Regions from separate parts of the Homo sapiens genome. Here region 1 is linked to region 2. Evidence: fine-mapped QTL for protein levels in blood plasma. Region 2 holds a variant in brackets. A gene starts in the other region. All regions are shown on their forward strands.

Region 1 (8,334 bases), not on the chromosome of region 2:
ACAAAAAGAAGAAGAAGTAGAAGTAGTAGTAGTAACGGTAATGGTAGTAGCTCTAACAAATCTGGTTACATTCCAGGGGAATCTTCTTCAGCACCCACCTGTTACCCTCAAATCTTGAAACATTTACGTATAAAAATCAACCTGAGCATGTGCAAGAAAATAGCTCTATATTGCCCCCTAGTGCTGGCCAGTGCCACTTCTCCTTGGGCTAAAAACTACAAGTAGTTCCTCTACTTCTAGTTACTTCCTGCTGCCATCCTTAACATAGACCAACCCCCAAACATAGCCTAATCCTCTACCCACAGATTAGGAAACAAGCAGCAATTTTTAGCATCATGCATCTTAGGAATGGAAATGGCCCAGCCTCAGATGGCAACAGAATGTGTGTGGCCTGGCTTAATGAACTCATCTCTCCTGGAGGTGTGAATCTACTTGGGTAAAGTGGCCTATGACCACATGCTGCATGACAGCTCTGGGACCCTTACAAAGTGATGATAGCATGGGGATCACAAGAGAGAACTAAAAGGAAAGGACAAAGAGAAGCACAGGTCAGCAAAGAGATTCGGGCAGATGCCAAGAGAGGCTTGATAAGACAAGGCAATAGGAGAAATGATATGGGACAGGAACAATAAAAAACAGAAGCCAGGAAGCCAGGAATATTGTGCATTGTTGTCATTATGGAGGAGCTTGGCTAGTAAGAAGCAATATTTTGAACTGGACATTTATTTTACATGAGAAAGAACAAAGGTTGGTCTGATGTGTTTCCTGCACGGGTACAGCTGGTGCTGTGGCTCCTTTGATCACTTTCCCCCAGACCTCTGCAGCTACTGTGATTAGAGATACATCCCTAGGCTGCCCTTTGATCAGCAGCTCAAGGAGCCTGCAGGTGCCATGTGGCATCACATTAGCAAGTTGTAAGAAGCACCACACTAATATTAGCTGATAAATGTGATACTATGTCTTGCTGCGCAACAGCAAATACAAATAACGTTTGCAAAAGTCGGCAGAATCCTTATTTTATCTACTTTTATACCCTAAAACTTTCTGTGCTTTCTTAAACATGAACACTTCATAGAGTTTAAATTCAAAGTTGAAGTCTTGAAACACCCCAATATGAAAAGGAAAAAAAATCACTCTGACTTAAAACTATAGCACATCCTATCTTAATTTTGTAGGTATGCCACTTGTGTTCATTTTGCATGGTTAATCAAGTGACAGAATCCTTGCATTCTGAATAGATGATATACAAAGCAGTAAAAACATGTATATTCCTTTTCAAATTACAGTAAGAGCCACCATTTGTAAACAGGGCGTTAAATATTCCAATTTTAGACAGCCTAACATGAACATTGTGGTTTCATGTGCAGTATAAAATTTCTATTTACAAAGTATTCTCAAAAATGACTTCATAATGGTAGATGAAGAGAAAAAGAGTTTAGAAATTGAATGATGTAAATCATATGGGTTCAGAGGCTAAGCAAATTACACACCCTGAAGCTGCCCTGGCTTTATGAAAGGAGCCTTTCTCCAGCTCTGTGCAATCCCAGCCCAAGGGAACTTGCATCTGAGAGTTTTCTAAACATTTCAGGTACACTTGAAAGCTGAAAGTAATTCTCATTTCCTATGCAGGATTAAGTCGTTTCCAGCACACACAAAATAGCAGTCATTCACCAACACATACAAAAACACACCACCAGAAAGGTAAGGACTTCAGAGTACAAAGGCAAGTTTAAAAAACAAAAACTAGGGAGCAAGAGAAATACACTTTTTAATTCCTCTAAAAACGACCACACAGCCTCTTGACCTCTATATTTCCTATCTACTCATTGATTAATTGATGACTTCGACCTAGAGTGCTTCAATTAATGCGGCTGATATATTTCCTGACCGACCCCCCTCGCCCTCCCCAAATCTGAGTAAAGTCAAACATGCCAAGGCTCATTCATTTTGGATTCGTTTTTAGAGGCAGTTCTTGAACTTCTAACTTTAGCAATGAGCGAACCTGCAATGTGCATTTGAAATGACGTTCACAATCGCTCCCAGAATGTCCTCACTCAGCAGTGGCACTCACGTTGCCCTCTTGGAGCTTTGTGGCAGCTCCCGAAGTTGCAAACTACACTTAACCTTTAACAGTCCATGCCAATGAACGCAGCGCACATTTGCATGTAATGAGAGACCAAAGATACCTTCACAGTCTGGTATATATCACATACCAACGCACAATGCCAACGTTAACACACACAGCGAGAAACAAGCAGGGGGAGAATGGGGGAAAGACTCACCGTTCTGTTCCTTGTTGCTGGAAAACTGGAATTTACTACTCAGGTTGGATTCCGCCTGAGTCCCCTGTCTCTGGCCGGCCAGGGCAGATGTCAGCAGGAGAAGCCCGAAGAGGCTCATTTGGCTGACTGGGGTGAGAGCTCACTCACGGCGGGCACTTTGGAAGCAGCGACTCCCGAGTCTCTTTCACCACCGCCAGGGGAAGGCTGCACTGGGGTGGAAGCGCCGAGCCTGCTCTGGCAGCAGAGAATCGCAGGGTAGTTTCCACATAATCCCATCCAAAACTTTTTCCTAGAGCCCTCTTCTGTGTCTCCAGTTTTTGAAAAGGATCAAAGCAAAACCTGGACCTGAACCAGTTTCCCAAGGTTTAAACAAATCCTGAGCTGTGGCGAAGTGGTGGGGGTGGGGGTGAAGGCGAGGGAGGAATGAGGGGGTGGGGACGCGGGGGAGCGGCGAGAAGTCCCCAGCAAGTTGCTGGGAGCACCTGTCAGTTCGGGGGACAGGACAGAGGCGAAAACTCAAGGGTTGCCCGCAGCCAGACTGGAAGCCAAGTCGGCGGCGAGCAGTTTCTGATCAATAACAAAGCTGCCAATAGATGCGGCTCTCCGGGCGCCCCTCTCCCCCGCCCCACCCCCCACCCCCGAAGGGGGAGGGGGAAGAAACAAGGCGAGGGCGCCGCGGCGGGTCCCACGGGCCGGGGCGCCGGAGCGGGGCCGGGGGGCTCCGGGCCGACGGCGGCCCGGGCGCAGGCGGAGAGAGGCCGCGGGGCTCCCGCTCCTCAGCCCGGAGCGCAGTTGGCCCCGGGTTCGGAGCGCCGCAGCACGGATTCCGGCACCTGGCTTGAGTTTTCCGCGACCAAAGTTCACCTTGTTCGGGCTCGTCCCCCGCTCCTCAAAGCCTGGGGCAATTCGGCCGCTCGGGGTCACCGCGGGGCTCCGGTTGTTCCCCGTCCCCTCCCCCCACGCCTCGGGCTCCGCGCTAACCTCGGGGCTACGCGCGGCGTCTCCGCACGGGGTGAAGAGGGAAGGCCGGGGCGGCCGGGAGGATCCGGCTTGTCCCCTCCCCTTCTCTACCTTCCCCCCGCCGGGCGGCAGACAGGAGGTGGGGGCCGTGGGCCGAGCCCGGGCGGAGCGCGCGCCTGGCGAGCGGGGGCGGCTCAGCGGCTCTCCCGCAGGCGGCCGATGGGGCGGGCGGGGGTCAGCGCCTCTGGGAGGGGCAGCCCTGGGACGCGTCCGCGCGAGCGGGCTTGGCCGCCCACTGGCTGTCAACAGGTGCTGCGCAGACAGGGGGTGCTGCGGGACTCGCTGTGGGCAAGACCCCGGTGGCCCAGGAGAGGAACGCGGCCAAGGCGGCCCCTGCTTTCCCTTCCACGGAACACCTCTAACCCCAAATACAGAGCACGATGGGTGGTGAAGGGTGCTGCAGAAGTAAGTGGGAAAGAACTTCCTGCAGCTCTCCTTCTCCCGCCCCCTGTCGCCTGACTTGTCATTAGTTTCCAGGAGGGCTCCCCACTCCCTAAGGTCTTTGCTAGGACCCTTGGCCAGAGTTTCAGAACAGAAGGAAGAAGGGAAATGAATTCAAAGGCTTTCCTCCAATTTCCAGCTCCGTAAAGCAGGACAAATAAAGCAAAAGTAAAGGCAGCCAAAATAACATCCATTTAACAAGTACTATATTTACTGAATGCCTACTATGTCGGGCACTGTTTAGAGGTTGGAGCCGTAGCAGTGAAAACAGACAAAAGTCCCTGCCCTCGTGAAGCATACGTAGTAGTTGGGCAGCATTAAGCTAATAGCAAGCTCTTCTGAGAATGGTGTCTAAGGGACTCAGAATGATCCTGCAACCTTGGACTTTCCTACAATACAGCCTCTAACAAAACTAGGCTGCCCTGAACCCCTGGTGATAGAATTGTTTACATTTACACCAAAAAGGTCGAGAAAGAACTGAAATCTCTTGTGGCTTGTGTTCAGGCTGACTTGGAGAGAGAGGCCGATGCTTTAAGACCTAAAGTTCTCATGAGGTAGTCTGAAATGAAACACACATGCCAAGCAGGGCTTATGGTGGTTCCATGTCTGCTAAATATGTCTGTGACAGGATCCAACGTGCTTTCTTTGTGGAGAAGCAGAAAATCATTGTCAATGTGTTAAAGGCACAAGCAGAGAGTCAGAAAAGTTGAATTTTAAAATGAAGCTATTTTTGAGTAATAATCAAAATGAAAACAAGGAAGTGCCATGGCAGGCAAATCAGCAATATCACCCAACTTCTTGTGGAAAAAAAGTCAATGCAAACAATTCGACCATCAAGAACACTTGGGCTGGAACAGAAAACCAAAATAGCAATGTCCCTGAAACTAAGGAGTGGCATTTGGGCAAGAACATATTCTTACTGGACCAAACCAGGGGCTGATCCTTCTTCAGTGGTGAGGAAAATGCCAAGCCCTCTTCTTATATGCGAACACCAACTGGGGCCAACCAACCAGACCTTTCTGCTTGGAATATCCTAGTCTTCTTGTTTTTCCCTTTTAGAAACCTTTGAAAACTTCACCCATCTGTCTCATTCTTGAAAATTTCACCCGCCTGTCTCATTCATTCATTCTTATCCCTTTACCACTTCTATCTACAGAGTACTAAATATACACTAAAGGCAAATAAGGCCTGATCTTTGACTTTAAGGCATTTACAGTTTAGTGGACAGAAGGTTTTTTATCAAGTATGGTATTTTATTCGAGTTAGCAGCTCCACAACACCAGTGTGACTCCATATTTGCATAATGTGTTCCAAAAATATTTTGTAAATTTGTGAGGGTGAAGGGTTATTCCCAATTTTAATAACATAATGGGACTTAAATAAAGGGCATGCCTTATGAATCCATTGTAATCTATTTTTCATAAAATTCATTATTCTCCAGTTTTTCTAATTTTGTAAGTTTAGTTTTCTAATCAGCACTTTTCTAAATGAAATTGTTATATGTCCATATAGTTGAGTTTCCTGACCACCCACATAGAGGTGGGGTGTGTGTGTGTGTGTGTGTGTGTGTGTGTGTGTGTGTGTCTGCAAATGTAATCCATTTGCTCTCAGGAGATTGGAAGGGTGATGACTACTCTTTATTTTGTATCATTTCATATTGGCTAGAATATTGCTTGGCACAGGGGGATAATAAATAAACACTCTTGACTGACTGACAGGTTTCTTTATTGGAGTCACTTACATTCTCCCTGGAATTTCAGTGCGATAGTTGTATTTGAAAAGTTACAGATGATCTAGAATAATACTCTACCTCTGCGTTTCACCTCATCCATATTCTACAGATTGATTTGACAATCGCCTTATAAATAAAGTCAGCCAGGTGTTCCTGAATGACCCCTAGACAAAATCACATCCACATTGGCCAATTTCCTTTCAATGTACTTGCATTGTCATTTCTTGAACTGCTCTTGCCCTTGACGTAGTTGATTCTTTTAACACATTATCCTCTGCCTGTCTTCCTGCTCTATTTTGCTTGTTAACCTTTTCTAGAAAAATGAAATCTTTGCATTGAAAGTAAATTTTATATAATCCAGAGTCTGTGCAATTACTAAACAATATATTTTAAATGAATATGGCTTTGTTTTGGCCAAAGGCATTTTCCTTGATGAAAGGCATCTGTTCCGCCAACCAAGAGAAAATAATTTCAGACATTCTTTGTGGTTTTCATGTTTTCTTAAACCTTAAGAAGGAGTGCCCATTGCTGCTGCATGCATGAAGAGTATTACCACAAATTCTTACTAAAGAATACACTTGGTGGTTAACAATGATAATTTGGGGGAGGGGGTGTCACTACTAAATGTTTTTAAGTGAAATAAGATTTTAAAGCAACCTACTCCTTTAGCTAGCCACTTAACACTCAAAGGGGCGGGAACCATGGGGACATATTTTTGCCACCAAAAAAAAAAATCTACGTTTTCTTGCTCTTTATTTTTCTGTTTTGATCCTAACACACACACACACGTGCATGCACACACACACAGAGGCATATGTGCAAAGTTATTTTAAGACTTTTCCTGGAACATTTCAGTATTTTAGTGGCAGATAATTGAGCATGATTTCCTGAAGTTCAGAAAGCTTTCTTCTACCTAAATACTCATTGTGTATTGAGAATGGCTGACAAGTAACAAATATATATATATATATATATATATATATATATATATATATATATATATATATATATGGCAGGACTGGAGATATCATTAGTAGTCAAAGTAAACGTCCACAGACCACAGCAGGAATAAAGACTGTGTTAGGAAAAAAAGAAATAAATAAATAAATGAAGTCAGTAGTCTGTCTTAGAGTCATCCTCTTCTCTTTCCACTTTTCCCACTACCTCATCTTGAGAAATACGACCTTGCTATCTCTAGGTTATGAAGATATATATCAATACTCTGTTTTTCCAACCAAGAAATGAGACACTTTTCATTACATTTTATTCTTCTAGCATCAGGTAACTTTTACCTCCCCAGTGTATCAGCTGCTAATCTGAGAAGGGTTTACCTGCTGAGGCTGAGGGTAGAGGGTTTTGCTAAGGCTCTGCTCTAGAAGAAGACACACTTTGTCAGTCTGACTTTCCTGGGGAATGGATCTGGAGGATGGGGAGTTAAGAGAAGTGTGACCTGCAGAAATGGACTTTAGTTGGCTCTCTGTGGCCTTTTCCTTTGAAGTAAAGCTGCTATTTCCTTATTGAAATCTAAGATTTTCCAAAATCTTAGAAGTGTTTGTCTGACTCTGAACTCAGAGGGAGTAACTAGCCAGAAACAGCCGTAAAGAAAGAGAAGCCCTAGTAACCTTTGAACCACCACAACAAAAGATCATTTCACTGGGAGATGGGAGGTCAGGGGCTTAGTCTGGCTTTACCACTAATAAACAGTACAACCTTGATCTAGAAATCTTCTCTGCCCCTCAGTTTCCTTTTCCTTACATGAGGAATCGCCACTGGCTTCTGTCTTGATCCCCCTACTGCTTTAGAAATTCTCTGAGCTATTATAGATAATGATGGCAAGACTTTTTCATCTTCAGTGTGCTTCTGTGATAAAAAATTACTAGCACAAGTTTCCTAGCCTCATATCAGAGATGTCTTCGTGGCTGGCAAAAGAGATAATGAACAGGTTCTTCTTTCTAAACTTGCTCAACTAGAGCAGTACTATTGTATCTGTTATTGCCATAGTTTGAAAAACCAAGCTCTAATGGTAATCAAAAAGAAGAGGGGACAGAGTTTGGAAATCACTGGCTAGGGCAAGTATACAGGAATATCATGGAATTCAAGGAAACCAAATAAATCCCCAGGCCTTCAATAGGTGCAGGTATTCATATTTTACTTTTCAATATTTGGTTGTTATCATGCTAACAGCCTCGAAAGAGGCAAAGTGCAGTCCTAAGCGGAGTGTCAAGGTAAAAAGAAATAGCTATTGTACATAACTGAGTTGTAAACACTAAGGAAATAATATTGTTGTTAGCCAAGAACAGATGGTCAAACTCATACTGTTCTATTGAGTCACACTGGTGGAATGTGAAACAATCTGGAGAGCAAGGGGTATCCCCTAAGAACATGGACAGCAACACTATCTTTGTCCATATCTTAGAGTCAATAAGGTGTCATTTTTCTCTCTCTTGAAATCATTTGTAGGATATGAAGGCTGTTGTCCCCATTGTGACAAATCATAGTAAAGAGGTCAAGACACAGCTACAGACCCTCCTTTCTCAGATAGTGACCTTCTTATTTCAAAGGTCATGGGAGAAGGAGCCTTTCACTTTGTGATCATTGTTTCAAATGCAGTCCTTTCCTTGGCTACTAGCCTTTGTAAAAGAGGTGGATAGTCTCAGCCCACTACTTAACAGTGAACATCAAAAAGTATTGCTGGCTGGCTAGAAGAAAGGAAAATATGGCTTAACTAATCTAATATTAAAAGTATCCTCAACTGCTTTTGAAGTTCAAGATAGATCAACAGACCCCCCTTTCTATTATGATTATTACTATTTGCTTTCCTTATCATCTTTGCAGTAATAAATCTGCTTGTTTTCTTTT
Region 2 (8,334 bases):
GACTACTTAAAGCCTCAGTCTTTAGAGGCATTCATGCATACCTGAAATGTTAGGAGACAGAGAAAATTGTACTGTGGTAGGGTAGGTGCCAGATGAGCTTGGAGGAATTACTTGGATAGTCTAAGGTGGAGAGTGAGACCCCCAAGCGGCAGCCTGAGGGACAGTGAGGACACTGAAGACCACTTACTCCTGCCAAGGAGAGGCACTCGGAAGCGCCTCTGTACTGCATTCACAGTGCACAGCTCCGCTTTGAATGGTGGTAGCTCTCCTTATTCACCCTTCCCCTACACAGGCTGCGCCTGGGATCTCTACACTCGAGCAGACGGAGACCCCAGACCCCATTGGCCTAAGTGCCTGAACGTTATAAATCAAAAGTATTTTAAATGAAGCTGACATGTTTACATTTAAGTTTTAGAAATTTAATTAATTATCCCAGCACTTTGGGAGGCTGAGGCGGGTGGATCACAAGGTCAGGAGATCGAGACCATCCTGGCTAACCCGGTGAAACCCTGTCTCTACTAAAAAAATACAAAAAAATATTAGCCGGGCATGGTGGCGGGCGCCTGTATTCCCAGCTACTCAGGAGGCTGAGGCAGGAGAATGGCGTGAACCCAGGAGGTGGAGCTTGCAGTGAGCTGAGATTGTGCCACTGCACTCCAGCCTGGGCAACAGAGCGAGACTCTGTCTCGAAAAAAAAAAAAAAAGAAATTTAATTAATTAATTAAATCATGTCCAAAAGATTTGTACAACTGAAAATTATTCACGAGGCTAGCATGCAGCCTCTACATGCCCATGTCAAGAACCAGATTCAATTGTCCTGATGCAGTGACTCACAACTGTAATCCCAGCACTTTGGGAGGTCGAGGCAGGCAGATCATTTGAGGTCAGGAGTTTGAGACGAGCCTGGCCAACATGATGAAACCCCGTCTGTACTAAAAATACAAAAATTAGCCAGGTGTGGTGGCAGGCGCCTGTAATCCCAGTTATTCAGGAGGCTGAGGCCGGAGAATTTCTTGAACCTGGGAGATGGAGGTTGCAGTAAGCCAAGATTGTGCCACTGCACTCCAACCTGGGTGACAGAGCCAGACTCTGTCTCAAGAAAATAAAGAGAAAAAGAACTAGATTCAGGCTGTATGTGGGCACCATCTACAGACATCAGACACACACATTTAGGAGTAATAATGATGCAATATTGCCAAATGTTTCTCAGCAACCATGTGCAACTGTTGCATGTACTGTTTATTTCTAACTCAGGAGGATCTCTCTAACCACACATTGCAAGAAAATAGACTTTCAGTGTTTCTGGCAAAACAAAGAGTTTTTTTGTTGGCATTTATGCTGAAAGGGAAGAGTTAAAATGTTAATTTGTCTTTTTTCTTACCTCCAAGTTCACTCAAATCCTCTCTTGAAGCAGTGTCTGTCTCCTATGTCTGCGGTGGCATCATCCACGAAGTATCAGGACATTTGACCTGTTGTTTTCAGAGTCGAGTGCCACATGTAGAGATTGTTTCCTGGGGCCTAAACAGTGTTGGTTGTGAAAGAGAATAATCAGTGATGTGGGTCCCACTGTGCCAGTACCAGGCACCAGATCCCAAAGGACAGAGGTGCTTATCTGTTATTTAATAAACTGTTGTGTGTGGGTGGGTGTGTGGGTGGGTGTGATATGTGGGGCTCTCTAAATCCCTGGGCCCCAATAGTCCAGGTCTAATGGTGGTGCTGTCCCCAACAATGCTCAGCTTCTCCTCAAAATACATGGTATCTGGGCTGGGCACGGTGGCTTACACCTGAAATCCCAGCACTTTGGAAGGCCGAGGCGGGTGGATCACTTGAGGTCAGGAGTTCAAGATCAGCCTGGCCAACATGGCGAAACCCTGTCCGTACCAAAAATACAAAAGAAATTAGCCAGGTGTGGTAGTGACACCTGTAATCCCAGCTACTAGGGAGGCTGGATAGGAGAATTGCTGGAACTCGGGAGGCGGAGGCTGCAGTGAACTGAGATCGTGCCACTGCACTCCAGCCTGGGCGACAGAGTGAAACCTTGTCTCAGATAGATAGATAGATAGATGATAGATAGATAGATAGATAGATAGATAGATAGATAGATGATAGATAGATGATAGATAGATTAGATAGATAGATAGATAGATAGATAGATAGAGATAGATGATAGATGATAGGTAGGTAGATAGATGATAGATAGATAGATAGATAGATAGATAGGTAGATAGATGATAGATAGATAGATGTTAGATAGATGAATGGTATCTGGAGTCTGTCCCCATCATCTCACCCCTGGACCACTGCATCAGCTCCAGCTGGTTTCTCAGGTTTAATCTCCTTCCCTAGCCCTCCCCATTCTTCCCATTCAGACAGAGCGATCTTTCTGAAGAACCAATCTGGTTATGCCTTTCCAACCCCTTTGAAATCTTTCCATTTCTCTCCTACACCTCCTAAGTCTAGCGAACCCCTCAGCCTGGCTTCCATGCCCTGCAGGCTCCATCTCCTGCCAACCTCTTCAACATAAAGTCTGGCCACTCCCACTTATCATGTGCTCCAGCTGCACAGACTTTCCAGCTCCCTGATACACCCACTCTCTCACCTGCGCTCTTCCCTCTTGATAACTCCAATCATTGTTTCAAGCCTCAAATTAGAGCAATGCAAATTCAAGAAACAAACCAAGCTGGCAAAAACACAAAAAAGAAAGGAAAAAAAAAGGGTCATTTCTGTTCTGACAAGGATGGGGATAAGGAGACTCACTTGTACACTGCCAAACTGACATTCAAAATCCTTAGTGCTTTTGGATTTGTCATGTTTGGGAGGAGGGTTTTTAAATCATCGGCTTTCTTGAGGTTGAATAAATAAAAGAAAATGCACACATTTTAGGTTTACTGTTCAATTAGTTTTTACAACTATACGTGTGTGTGTATAATGGCCACCACGATGACAACCTGGATCGTTGTCATCCACTTCAGTGTTCTCTCATATGCTTTTGCAGTCAAATTGCCCTCTTTTGCCCTTGGCAACCACTGATCTGATTTCTAAAATTATAGATTTGTTTGAGCTGTTCTAGAACAGAACCGTACAGTATATAAGCTCCTTTGTATCTGGCTTCTTTTGTTCAGCATAGTGTTTTTGAGATTCATCCATGGTGTTATATGTATCAATAGTTTAACTATTTTTATTGTTAAGTAATATTCCTTTGTAAGAAAATGCCACATTTTTATTTACCATTTTCCTGTTGATGGGCATTTGGATTGTTTCTTTCTTTTTTTTTGGTTTTTGTTTTTGCTTTTGTTTTTGTTTTTTAGACAGTCTTGCTCTGTCACCAGGCTGGAGTGCAGTGGCACGATCTCGGCTAACTGCAAGCTCCACCTCCCAGGTTTGAGCGATTCTCCTGCCTCAGCCTCCTGAGTAGCTGGTACTACAGGCGCATGCCACCACACTCAGCTAATTTTTGTATTTTTAGTAGAGACGGAGTTTCTCCATGTTGGCCAGGCTTGTCTCGATCTCTTGACCTTGTGATCCGCCCACCTCGGCCTCCCAAAGTGCTGGGATTACAGGCGTGAGCCGTGGTGCCCCACCCTTGGATTATTTCTAATTTTGGCTATTTTGAGCAATGCTGTTATGAACATTAATATGTAAGACTTTGTGCATAGCACGTGGTTTCCTTTCCCTTGGATACTAAGGTAATTTTAAAAGGGAAATTGGCTGCTCTCTGACACTTATCATCAGAGGAAAAATCACAATATGAAATGCTGTTAGATAGGCTGGGAGTGGTGGCTCACGCCTATAATCCAGCACTTTGGGAGGCTGAGGCAGGAGGATCACTTGAGGCCAGAAGTTCAAGACCAGTCTGGGCAACATAGTGAGACTCTGTCTCTACAATTTTTTGTTTTTTAAATTTAATTAGCCAAGTGTGGTGGTGCATGCCTGTAGTCCTAGCTACTCCAGAGGCTGAGGTGGGAGGATTGCTTGAGCCCAGGAGTTTGAGGCTGCAGTTGAGCTATGATTCATACCACTGCACTCCAACTTGAAGAGCCTGAAAAAAAAAAAAAAGTGCTGTAGACATAAAGGACATGACTAAGTAGGTTAGAATATAGTAAGCGGGCCAGGCGCCGTGGCTCATGCCTGTAATCCCAGTACTCTGGGAGGCCGAGGTGGGCAGATTGCTTAAGCTCAGGAGTTCGAGACCAACCTGGGCAACATGATGAGACCCCCATCTCTACAAAAGTACAAAAAGTTAGCCAGGTGTGGTGGCACGCACCTGTGGTCCTAGCTACTCGGGAGGCTGAGCTGGGAGGATCTCTTGAGCCTGGGTGGCAGAGGTTGCAGTGAGCCAAGATCCCACCACTACACTCCAGCCTGGGCGACAGAGTGAGATGCCATTTCAGAACAAAAACAAAAACAAAAAAAGAATAGAGTAAGTGAATGAAAAGTTGTGCATCCATTACACTTTTATTTATTTATTTATTTATTTATTTTTGAGACAGGGTCTCTTGCTCCATCATACAGGCTGGAGTGTAGTGGCAAAATCACAGCTTACTGCAGCTTTGAACTCCTGGGCTCAAGCAATCTTCCAGCCTCAGAGTCCAGAGTAGCTAGGCTTTCAGGTACATGGCACCAGACCTGGCTAATTTTTTTGTTTGTTTGTTTGTTTTCCTTGAGACGGAGTCTCACTCTGTCACCCAGGCTGGAGTGCAGTGGCGCCAT[C/A]TCAGCTCACTGCAAGCTCTGCCTCCCAGGTTCACGCCATTCTCCCATCTCAGCCTCCCAAGTAGCTGGGACTACAGGCGCCTGCCACCACGCCCAGCTAATTTTGTTTTTGTATTTTTAGTAGAGATGGGGTTTCACCATGTTAGCCAGGATGGTCTCCATCTCTTGACCTCATGATCCGCCCGCCTCAGCCTCCCAAAGTGCTGGGATTACAGGCGTGAGCCACCGCGCCTGGCCGACCTGGCTAATTTTTAAATATTTTTGTGTAAAGATAGGGTCTCACTATGTTGCCCAGGCTAGTCTTGAACTCCAGGACTCAGGTGACTCTCCCATCTTGGGTCCATTAAGCTTTTAACTACAAACTACACTGAAATATGAAAGTTATTCAGAATGAAATGAATAAGAATGCAAAATTATAATCATACCGTAAGAATACTTTCTGAGTAATCCCAGCACTTTGGGAGGCCGAGACGGGTGAGTCACCTGAGGTCGGGAGTTCCAGACCAGCCTGGCCAACATGGAGAAACCCCATCTCTACTGAAAATAACAACAACAAAAAAAATTAGCTGGGCGTTGTGGAGGGCACCAGTAATCCCAGCGACTCAGGAGGCTGAGGCAGGAGAATCGCTTGAACCCAGGAGGCACAGGTTGCAGTGAGCCGAGATTGAGCCATTGCACTCCAGCCTGGGGGACGGGAGTGAAACTCCGTATCAAAAAAAAAAAAAAATGAATACTTTCTGAAAGTATTTATTCATACAAATAAAGACTTGACCCGTGAGGTAGGAACACAAATGGGCCACGGAATCACTCATTCCACAGAATATACCGAGTGCCCTTGAAGTGCTGGGCACTGCTCCAGGATTGGGGGCGTATTGGTGAAAGAGAAGCAAGCTGCCTGCTCAGATGGCAGGGAATGGGGGAAAACAGGGAGACAGTTTCCTGTTTGAGATGTTGGGAGATGCTTCGAGTAGTATATTTACTGGAAATAGACATTCAACTTGGATGTCCCTTTTTGGAAATGTGCCTGCGTCCAGGGCTGGGTTGGGGCCCCAATGAACTTTGGCTCTGACACAGCTGTTGCCACACTCAGTGGAACTGAATCTATGTTTGTCTTCCCCGGCATCCTTCACCCCAACTCTCCCCGCCACAACATACATCCCATGCCAGCCTGGGGACCCTCAAAGGTGGCTTCATCATTAGGTTTGTGGCTGGGTCCCACTGAAGTAAGTCTTGGCACTCAGAGGGATAGGAATTGAATGAAGACATGAGATTCCTCTGCGGGAGGCCTCTCTAGGAAATCTGTGGACTCACACGTTTACTAATGTTGCTGCAGCCCCGCACCCACCTTGGCCTTGGGCAGCCATACTCTAGGGCTTTTGTAACCTCTCCATGTGAGGAACTCAAATTAGACCTGGGTTTGGAGGCGGTGCTCCGAGCTGGCCTTTGGGGGAGGTTTTGTGCGAGGCATTTCCCAAGTGCTGGCAGGATTGTGTCACAGACACAGAGTAAACTTTTGCTGGGCTCCAAGTGACCGCCCATAGTTTATTATAAAGGTGACTGCACCCTGCAGCCACCAGCACTGCCTGGCTCCACGTGCCTCCTGGTCTCAGTATGGCGCTGTCCTGGGTTCTTACAGTCCTGAGCCTCCTACCTCTGCTGGAAGCCCAGATCCCATTGTGTGCCAACCTAGTACCGGTGCCCATCACCAACGCCACCCTGGACCGGGTGAGTGCCTGGGCTAGCCCTGTCCTGAGCACATGGGCAGCTGCCTCCCTTCTCTGGGCTTCCCTTTCCCTGCTGGCTGTGGTCGGACCCCCACTCCCGGCTCTGCCTTTTTCTCTTCTGGGTCCCCAGGGTGAAATTCTCACCAGCCCAGGGGACTCTGGAGGCACCCCCTGCCTCCAAACACAGAAGCCTCACTGCAGAGTCCTTCACGGAGGACGGTTCTGTGCTGGGCCTGGAGGGGCTGCCTGGGGGGCAATGACTGATCCTCAGGGTGAGCTCCTGCATGCGCACTGCCCACCAGGGGCCTCATCTCCCCATCTGCAAAATCAGGGAGAGATCTGCCTGAGTCTCCTCCCAGCTGACAGTCAAAGATTCAGCATCAAGCCCCCATCACCAGCTCCCACCTTCTCCCCAGATCACTGGCAAGTGGTTTTATATCGCATCGGCCTTTCGAAACGAGGAGTACAATAAGTCGGTTCAGGAGATCCAAGCAACCTTCTTTTACTTCACCCCCAACAAGACAGAGGACACGATCTTTCTCAGAGAGTACCAGACCCGGTGAGAGCCCCCATTCCAATGCACCCCCATCTCAGCTTCTGGCCAGAAGACCTGAGCAAGTCCCTCCTTCTTCCTGGCCTTGGCCTTCCCATGGGTGGAACCGGGAGGGCTGGCTTTAATCTCCACCAGACTCTTGCCCCAGGACTGTGATGGGCGATTGGCCACTTCTCAATAATCTTCCTGTTTTCCTTCCGCCTTCTGTTTGGCTTTAGACAGGACCAGTGCATCTATAACACCACCTACCTGAATGTCCAGCGGGAAAATGGGACCATCTCCAGATACGGTGAGGGCCAGCCCTCAGGCAGGAGGGTTCACTGTGGGAACAGGGCAGGCCAGCATAAGGTGGGGGCTGGATGTAGAGCCCTGGAGGCTTTGGGCACAGAGAAATAACCACTAACATTTTTGAGCTCTAACGATGTGCTCAGAAACAACTCTAAGAGGACACTGAGAGAATTAGAGGAGGAAAAAGAAGAACAGAGACCTCAAATAGTTTCCCCAAGGTCACACAGCTTATAATTAGAACTAGAATTGGAACTCCAGGCTGGCTTCAGATCTGCCTCTCTCTCATGCCCTCTTTAAGATCCTTTGCAAACCAATGGTAGAAGCCTGTATGTTGGAGAGGTGGTACCTTCAACTATGTCCCCCATCACCGCAGAGGTGGCACATGGCAGGGAGCTGATGGAGCTGAACTGACACCATTTAGCATCCCGAGCCTCCTCTCTGGGCCTCATTTTCCTCATCTGTAAAACGGAGAAAGGCCCTGACAGCCACGGTCTGTGTGAGGCTCCTGAGATCTCATGTACAGAAAGTGCTTGGCGTGGAGCTGGGCATGCAGCAGGGGCTGGGCACACGGTGGCCCAAAGGAGCCCTGGGCCTTCACTGATGGGCTGTGTGGCCACTGACACACCTAGGCCTCCTCACCTGTAAGACAGACACCATTGTGCCATCCCATGTTCTCACCCAGAGGCTCCTTTTCTCTTCCAGTGGGAGGCCAAGAGCATTTCGCTCACTTGCTGATCCTCAGGGACACCAAGACCTACATGCTTGCTTTTGACGTGAACGATGAGAAGAACTGGGGGCTGTCTGTCTATGGTAGGCATGCTTAGCAGCCCCAAACTCATGCCCCTCTCAGGCCTCACCCCCCATTCACCCACCCCTGGGCTGGCCCCTAGAACCCCAGCCCTCCCTGGCCTCCCGCCGGGCCCCACCATGTCCCCAGTCAGTCTCCTTGCTCCCCCTGCAGCTGACAAGCCAGAGACGACCAAGGAGCAACTGGGAGAGTTCTACGAAGCTCTCGACTGCTTGCGCATTCCCAAGTCAGATGTCGTGTACACCGATTGG

Which allele goes with the higher level. Alleles are on the strand shown, and positions count from the first base shown. The strength of an association depends on the size of the effect and on how common the allele is.
For the plasma level of the protein whose gene starts at base 3,296 in region 1, C is the high allele of the variant in region 2 and A is the other (strong association).

The links. PIP is the posterior inclusion probability: the model's chance that the variant is causal. The UK Biobank Pharma Proteomics Project read protein levels with antibody pairs (Olink). The fine-mapping took linkage between variants from a reference panel, not from the people measured, so its PIPs are less certain.
Region 1: PDGFC starts here. The variant in region 2 is fine-mapped to the plasma level of the PDGFC protein (UK Biobank, PIP above 0.99).

Annotation. Positions count from the first base shown.
Region 1 is chr4:156,968,504-156,976,837 of GRCh38, forward strand. PDGFC (platelet derived growth factor C) reads right to left here and starts at 3,296. Exons shown (of 6, transcript NM_016205.3): 1 at 2,283-3,296. The coding sequence starts at 2,400. RefSeq lists an enhancer at 3,083-3,583.
Region 2 is chr9:114,316,813-114,325,146 of GRCh38, forward strand. It overlaps ORM1 (orosomucoid 1), which reads left to right and starts at 6,286. Exons shown (of 6, transcript NM_000607.4): 1 at 6,286-6,435; 2 at 6,851-6,993; 3 at 7,206-7,276; 4 at 7,978-8,085; 5 at 8,237-8,334. The coding sequence starts at 6,322. LOC105376224 (a long non-coding RNA gene) reads right to left here and starts at 1,631. Exons shown (of 3, transcript XR_930255.3): 1 at 1,382-1,631. RefSeq lists an enhancer at 1,057-1,351. The variant C/A (reference allele first, on the strand shown) is at 4,711.